Linked DNA regions of Homo sapiens. The protein of the gene in region 2 interacts with the protein of the main gene of each other region in a pairwise test. Each region holds a gene or a part of one and is shown on either strand. Other genes may lie near its edges.

Region 1 (3,205 bases), on a different chromosome or scaffold from region 2:
AGTACCCACTGTTTTCTATTGCATGGCGTTATCTTTCTGTAAAGTCCAGTGTGGGTGAAGCCTTAGAGGCCAAGGTCGTGAAAGGATCTACTGGAGGGCTGGTGCCGGGCGGGAGCAGAGGGACAGGAGGTGGAGGAGGTCTTCTTGACGGCAACACACAGAAGGAGACATTTGTACCTTTATTCCAGTCATCATTCAATGTCAGGTTGGAGCCAGAAAATGAACTTGGCTGATTACCCAGTAAGTCTGAACAAGCTGACTTTGACTTCCCTTTCACACCAAAATCCTCTTCTTCCTCGAAGGTTACCCATCCTTTCGGGTTGCTAATTTTTAATGTAGACTGGCCCTGTAGATCAAAACTGTCCTTAAAGCCATCAAGTGAAGATGAAGCCCTGCTTTTGTTATGACCAAGAGGCTGCAGAGAAGGGAAAGGACTGATAGTAACGGGCTCTTCTTTGGAGAACCATGAAGTTGCCTCTGATTCTTCAGACTTGGCTCTAAATGGGTTTCCAGGAGCAGCAGTCCTGTCACTGAAAGGATTTGTCCTGGTCAAGCCAGTAATAAATGGGTTTGGAGAACTTCGCATATTTTCCTGGGATTGACTCCGAGCTGGAATTGGAGGCATTGTTGGCATGCAACTTACAGAACTCAAAACATTACTTTGCGTTGCAGAAGGCAACTGAATCAACCTCTTTGGGTCTGGGGTGGGAACAGGTGACGTTTGAACAGATAGCTGAGCCTTTGATACAGCAAGCAGATTAAATGACAGATCTTCAAATGGGTCAATCTTTAATGGTGATTCTCTTTTGCCATCAGAGATTCCATTTGTTTTTACCTGCAAAAGAAAGGGAGCACTGAAAAATCAGTTTATATTTACTCTTAATACCCCCTATTCTTCCTGTCTCAATTATTCTTCCCTTTTAGGGGCAAGCATGTAAATTTAGAAACTAAAAAGTAGCTTTGTGTAGTTTGTTACTCCGGTGGTTTAAATAACATGAAACACCTACAGTCTTTAAAAACTTCTTTCTAAATAAATCCTTTCTAATTAAATCCATTTTTAAATCCCTCAAAATCAAAGAGCTTATTTCATTCATGCAAGTTTTGAAATGGTAAGAAGGAGAATTGTACAGAATTAACAAATTTGTTCATGCCCAGTTCTATCACATTTCAGCATGAACTTAAGAAATCCATACTTATAACTTATGCTAAATCTATATAAATAAAATTCTAACACCCATCTATGATGATGATGTGGTTTCATTGTTCTTTTAAGTGTGTTTTCTAAAATTAATGTTACTATGGAAATTCAATTTTATAGATAAAATTAATTCTATTAGCATATTTTATTCCTAAGACGAAGACTCCATCTTTCTGTCTTCTACTTGGAAAAATAAATTTTGAGAGTTCTTTGCCCACCCCCTCTTTTTTTTTTTTTTGGAGACCAAGTCTTGTGCTGTCACCCAGGCTGGAGTGCAATGGCACGATTTTGGCTCACTGCAACCTCCACCTCCCGGGTTCAAGTGATTCTTGTGCCTCAGCCTCTTGAGTAGCTGGGACTACAGGCGTGTGCCACCAGGTCTAGCTAATTTTTTGTATTTTAGTACAGATGGGGTTTCACTATGTTGCCCAGGCTGGTCACAAACTCCTGAGTGCAGGCAATCTGCCCACCTTAGCCTCCCAAAGTGTCAGGATTACAGGCGTGAGCCACCATGCCCGGCACAGCTGACTTTTAATGTAAGCTCTCCTTTGTTGAATAAACTGAGTAATGTGAGGCTGGGCGCGGTGGCTCAAGCCTATAATCCCTGCACTTTGTAAGGCTGAGGCAGGTGGATCACCTGAGGTCAGGAGTTCCAGACCAGCCTGGCCAACATAATGAAACCTGTCTCTACTAAAAATACAAAAAATTAGCTGGGCATGGTGGTGCGCGCCTATAATCCCAGCTACTCAGGAGGCTGAGGAAGGAGAATTGCTTGAACCTGGGAGGCAGAGGTTGCAGTGAGCTGAGATCGCACCACCGCACTCCAGCTTGGGCAAGAGCAAAACTCCGCCTCAAAAAACAAAAAACAAAAACTGAGTAATGTGACAACTTTCCATAAAAAAATTGACCCTCCTGTCTTGTAAAAATATTCCAAAACAGATACACTATTAGTAACCAAATGCAACCATTGCTTAAAACCAGAGGAAAAAAAGTTCCATTTTCTATTTGGTTTATGAAGTCTACAACCACAATGATGTGCCTAGAGTGGTGCCTGGTCCCTTCTATGTGACAGAGTTGGCTGTGAACTGTTATCAGTAGGAAGAGTGCTTGGAATTCCTTCACTCCTGCCCTAAATCCCTTGGTCCCTACTCCATAAAGAAGGTGGTTGGAGTGGAGCACAGCCAAGGGACTGAGCAAAGACAAATGATCGGATGAAGGAAAAGAACTATGATTCTTGCCTCATAAGCAAATTAGCTTATCAGGCATACATTATTAATTTTGAAAAAAATGTATATAATTCTTAAAACTAGGGTAGATGACTTGGACACTTATGCTAACTTAAGAAAACTTCAGGGTTGGATACGATAGGGCAAAAAAAAATTCAGTTCAAGACTGGCAATGTAATAAAATGAGCACTGCCCAAAAGGAATTTGGATAGTTGTTAAAGCAACATAACTATACTTTCATGAAATATATTGGAAAAAAACAGCAGCAGTCTCAATAAAATGTAACTGCATACTATGAAACACTTAGTTACTGCTTAAGAATATGGAAGGATGTTCACTTGTAAAAGGAAATGGATGACTTAAGTGAATAACTTTCAAGTATCTGTTTTATTCAACTATCCTAGAATATGCTTTATAATTGGTTGAAACAGTATATTTTTCTTCAAACTTAGTGTGATAAATTTGTACAAAACTAAAGAGAAAACATGTCACAGACTTTAAACTGTACTCTAAATGTCTTAGGTAAGTAGACCTATATGTGGAAATGTACTTAAAAGGAAATTTATATAGATATTATAAAATTAACTCTATATTACCAAAAATCTCTGGACTATTTATAGTTAATACAAAATGAAATACTTCTGTCTGAGACAAAATTCTCCTATGGCAGATAGAATCGTCTGCAACACAGACATTATAGGAAAGGAGAATTTTGTGCTCTGCCAGCTTAGAACAGAAGTCACCTGCTGCATCAGTGCTATACATTTAAACACCTTTATTT
Region 2 (3,830 bases):
TAACCCAAAATATAAATGGCAATCTTGTATAGAATAAAGAAGTCTTCTTAAATCAGTGCGAAAAAGCTGGTTTCTTCAACAAATGATGGTAGGACAACTGGAAAGCCATCTTTCAAAAAATGAAATTGGATCCATATCTCATATTTAATACCAGACTGGATTAAAGATTTGAATGTAAAAAATAAAACCAACGAAGTACTAGATAAACCAAGAGAGAATTATTTCATAACCTCAGAACAGGAAAGCCCACTCTTTTTTTTGTCCCCCAAGGGTATTTAGGTACTTAGTGTATGTAGAGGGGGAAAAAAAAAGAATGGGCTTTCCTATTCTGAGGTTACAAAATAAAGGTCCAGAGAACTCCCAGGAAAGCCCATTCTAACATAAAATACATTCTGACATAAAACCAAAAAGCCATAAAAGAAAAATCCGATACATTCAATTGTGTAAGAATCATTTCTTCATAAGGGTGGGGGGAATACCATAAGAAAAATGAAAATACTGGCAACTGTTGCAGATAAAGGGTTCTTTACTTAAATACTAAGAGTTCCTTAGTATGCTTTGCTTAATATACTAATAGTTCCTACAAATCACTAAGAAAAAGATCCAAGAACCCAATAAAAATGGGCAAAAGGTATGTACAGTTCACAGAAAAGGTTATATTTAAATGACTCTTAAAAATGAAAAGATGTTCAATCACACTTAATGTAAAAGATATTAAAAAAAATTAAATTAAGACACCATTTTTACCTTTCAGATTGTCTGATCCAAAATTTCGTGATAATTCATTATGTGTGGGGAGACAGGCACTCTCATATATTGCGGGCGAAGTACAGACAGGTAGGGCAATTTGGCAATATCTTTCAAAATTACAAATACACGTACCTTTGACCTAGCAATTCTATGTATTTTTCTTACAGATATGCTCATACACAAGCAAAATGGCTTATACTCAAGATCATTCACTGCAAAATCACTTGAACTAGCAAAACTTGGGGAATAATTAAATGAGTTATGATTAATTCAGGCATTATGCAGCCATAAAAAGAATGAGGTACCTCTTTACAAAATGAAAGGAAAATATATCTGAGATACATTAATAAGTGAGGGGCGGGGGGAAGAAAGAAGAAGCAATCTCAAAGTGCAGATAAAAATCAGTTCTAATGGGTTATCATACGTGTAAAAATAGAGAAAAATGCATATATACAGTAAAAACCTATGATATCATTTCAGATATAAAGCAATTTACCGGCTCCAGACCCCCAGAACTCATGGCCAACTTCATTTGCAGGTTTGTTCTGGTCATTTCACTAACCTCACAGAAATATAACCCTGAATTTTTTGTAAACTAGATTTCTTGGATCCCACTTATGGCAGGATTTTTACATATCTATCTATCTCTACATTTGCTTCTATGCACGTGGAATAGGTATGGAAAGATACATAACAATTTCAAGTATTTATTGATTGGGAAGAGGGACCATGCCTGCCAGATGGCAAGTTGTAGAGGCAGGGAGGAAGAGTAAGAGAGAGCTCATGGAATATCTTTTTATACTCTGAATTTTGGAACAAAGGAATATATTACCTATTTTTTAAAATAAATAACATATTTAAAAAAATGTGTTAATGTTTTCAATAACATGAGAAAATACACTTAAGAGAAAAAAAGTAGAATGTAAAATATATGCAGTTTGATACCAAATATGTATTAATACAAAAAAATCTGTACACAAAAAAGACTGGAATAAAACACAATAAAATATTAAAAGAATAATTATCTCAGCCAGGTGTGGTAGCACACTCCTGTAGTCCCAGTTATTCGGGAGGCTGAGGTGGAAGGATCCCCTGAACCCAGGCAATGGATAATATGTAAGCTATGATTGCGCCACTGCACTCCAACCTGGGCATGAGCTATGATTGCGCCACTGCACTCCAACCTTGGCAACAGAATGAGACCCCGTCTCTAAAATATAATATTTAAAAAAAAATGATAGTTATCTCTAAGAGGTAGAATTACAAATGATTTTAATTTTGGCTTTTCCTAAAATTCTAATTCTTTATGTTAAGCACAAATTATATTCATAATCAGAAAAAGGGTATTAATTTTTAATGACAGGAATCAGAGGTTAGAAATTCAAGTGGAAGGTACAAAGTTATTAGGTATTATTCAGGGTTCTAAGCATCATATATGAAATTCAAATTTCCTTCAGACATCACTTCCAATCACAGCACCAAAAAAAGTATGCATAATAAGCTTAGGAAAAATATGAAAAAAAAAATCTCATCTGTCCTCTGGTCTATCTCTTAAGGATTACTATGAAATTATTTTCATCCTCCTACTTTATGGATGTTTTGTCCATTTTTGTTTTCTGTTACCTAGGTAATGGTATTTCCAGCATTTCCCTTAAAAGACTGTGAAACTAACAATCTGGTATTTCTCACTGTCGAGTTTTCCTGACCTTCAGCTTTGAGAGGCCATCTCCCTAAGGGAAGGCAGCAAGATCTAGAAGCTAAATCAGGAGGCTAAGGAATCTGAGGTTAAGAGTTCCAATCCTGACAAACTGTGGAGTCTGTCTCCAATTTTGGGAATAAGCTAAACTTCCTGAGCCAGTTTCTTCAATGAGAAAACCTAAAGGATTGCTTTGAAAAATATCAAAAACTATTGACTTTAAGGTTTCATTTTAACTTTTCAGACTACTCTTCCGAATTTTGTTATCTTATCTATGTTGAATGTTTTCCCCTCACTAAATTTTCACTCTCTCAATCAATATCTATAAGTATTACCAATCCCTTAGACTCAGGGATGGAGGTAAGGGGTACTTTTAGAAAGTCTGCTACAAGTGACACAATGTGAATGGAACTCGAGCAATGTTGAAGATAATTTATGGAGGGGTAAAAATACAATCAGGATCTAAACTGAACCCTTATGAGCAAAGCCAACAAAGACAATTAATTGATGTTACTAACACCTGGTAAGGGAAGGTAAAATTCAGACAGCTCATATCTGAACCCAGCTGTAGAGATTAGGAAAGTGATAACTTCTGTATCATAGTCTAGCAAATGAAATGTTTTTATGCCTTTAAGGGTTCAATTTTTATTTCTTTTGTTTACTGTATACTCACTAACACCACTGCACTGGGCCTCAAGACTTCTCTTTTCCCTTCTACTTGTGAACCACATTACTTCTTGATGGGCTGCCCTCTCACTATAAAATAAACTACATGAAATTTGCAAAAGGGTTTTCTACATGCTAGCCTTAAGAAGTACTTGACAGCCTTTGGGAAGAAAGGTGTTTTTACAAACATCAGACAGCAATTATCCCTCTACCAAGATAGGGTGAAGCAATTTTAGCAGTGCCCTTAGCACACTTCAAACTCCTCCTCCTGGTTAACAAGACCAAACAACTCTCTAGTTAGTTAAAAGTTTTTCCAATAGGGAGGGACAAGGGAGCAAACAGCTGAAGTTTTTCTGAATTAACTGTCATTAGTTGAATGCTTTTTTGTGGTTCACCTACTTAAAAGGTGATCAAATCACTTTGTGCTACTGAAGAAAGCAACTGCAAAGAACAATTACATAAACCCTCTATTTCAACTTACCTCATCCTTCCTTCTAATGAAACAAAGGATCCGAAACCACTACCTTGCCACCATTTCCTTAATAATCTTGGTAAAGCCTACTATGTCATGTGAATCTCTTTTCTTTTTCTTAGCAAACCACAGAAATTTCACTCACTATAGTAGGAAACACAACTGTACAACTTTTTTTTTTTTTTTTTATTTGAGACTGAGTCTCGCTCTGTTGCCCAGGCTGGAGTGCAGTGGCACGATCTCAGC

What was found.
Region 1: the proteins of RASAL2 (region 2) and SYNJ1 interact in a two-hybrid assay, tested with the Homo sapiens proteins (one large-scale study listed by BioGRID and IntAct).

What each region holds. Positions count from the first base shown.
Region 1 is NC_000021.9:32,630,967-32,634,171, forward strand, and holds part of SYNJ1 (synaptojanin-1), read right to left. Parts: intron 855-3,205; coding exon of another isoform or gene 29-854; 3' UTR 1-28. UniProt on the Homo sapiens protein: Phosphatase that acts on various phosphoinositides, including phosphatidylinositol 4-phosphate, phosphatidylinositol (4,5)-bisphosphate and phosphatidylinositol (3,4,5)-trisphosphate. Has a role in clathrin-mediated endocytosis.
Region 2 is NC_000001.11:178,100,470-178,104,299, reverse strand, and holds part of RASAL2 (ras GTPase-activating protein nGAP), read right to left. Parts: intron 1-3,830. UniProt on the Homo sapiens protein: Inhibitory regulator of the Ras-cyclic AMP pathway.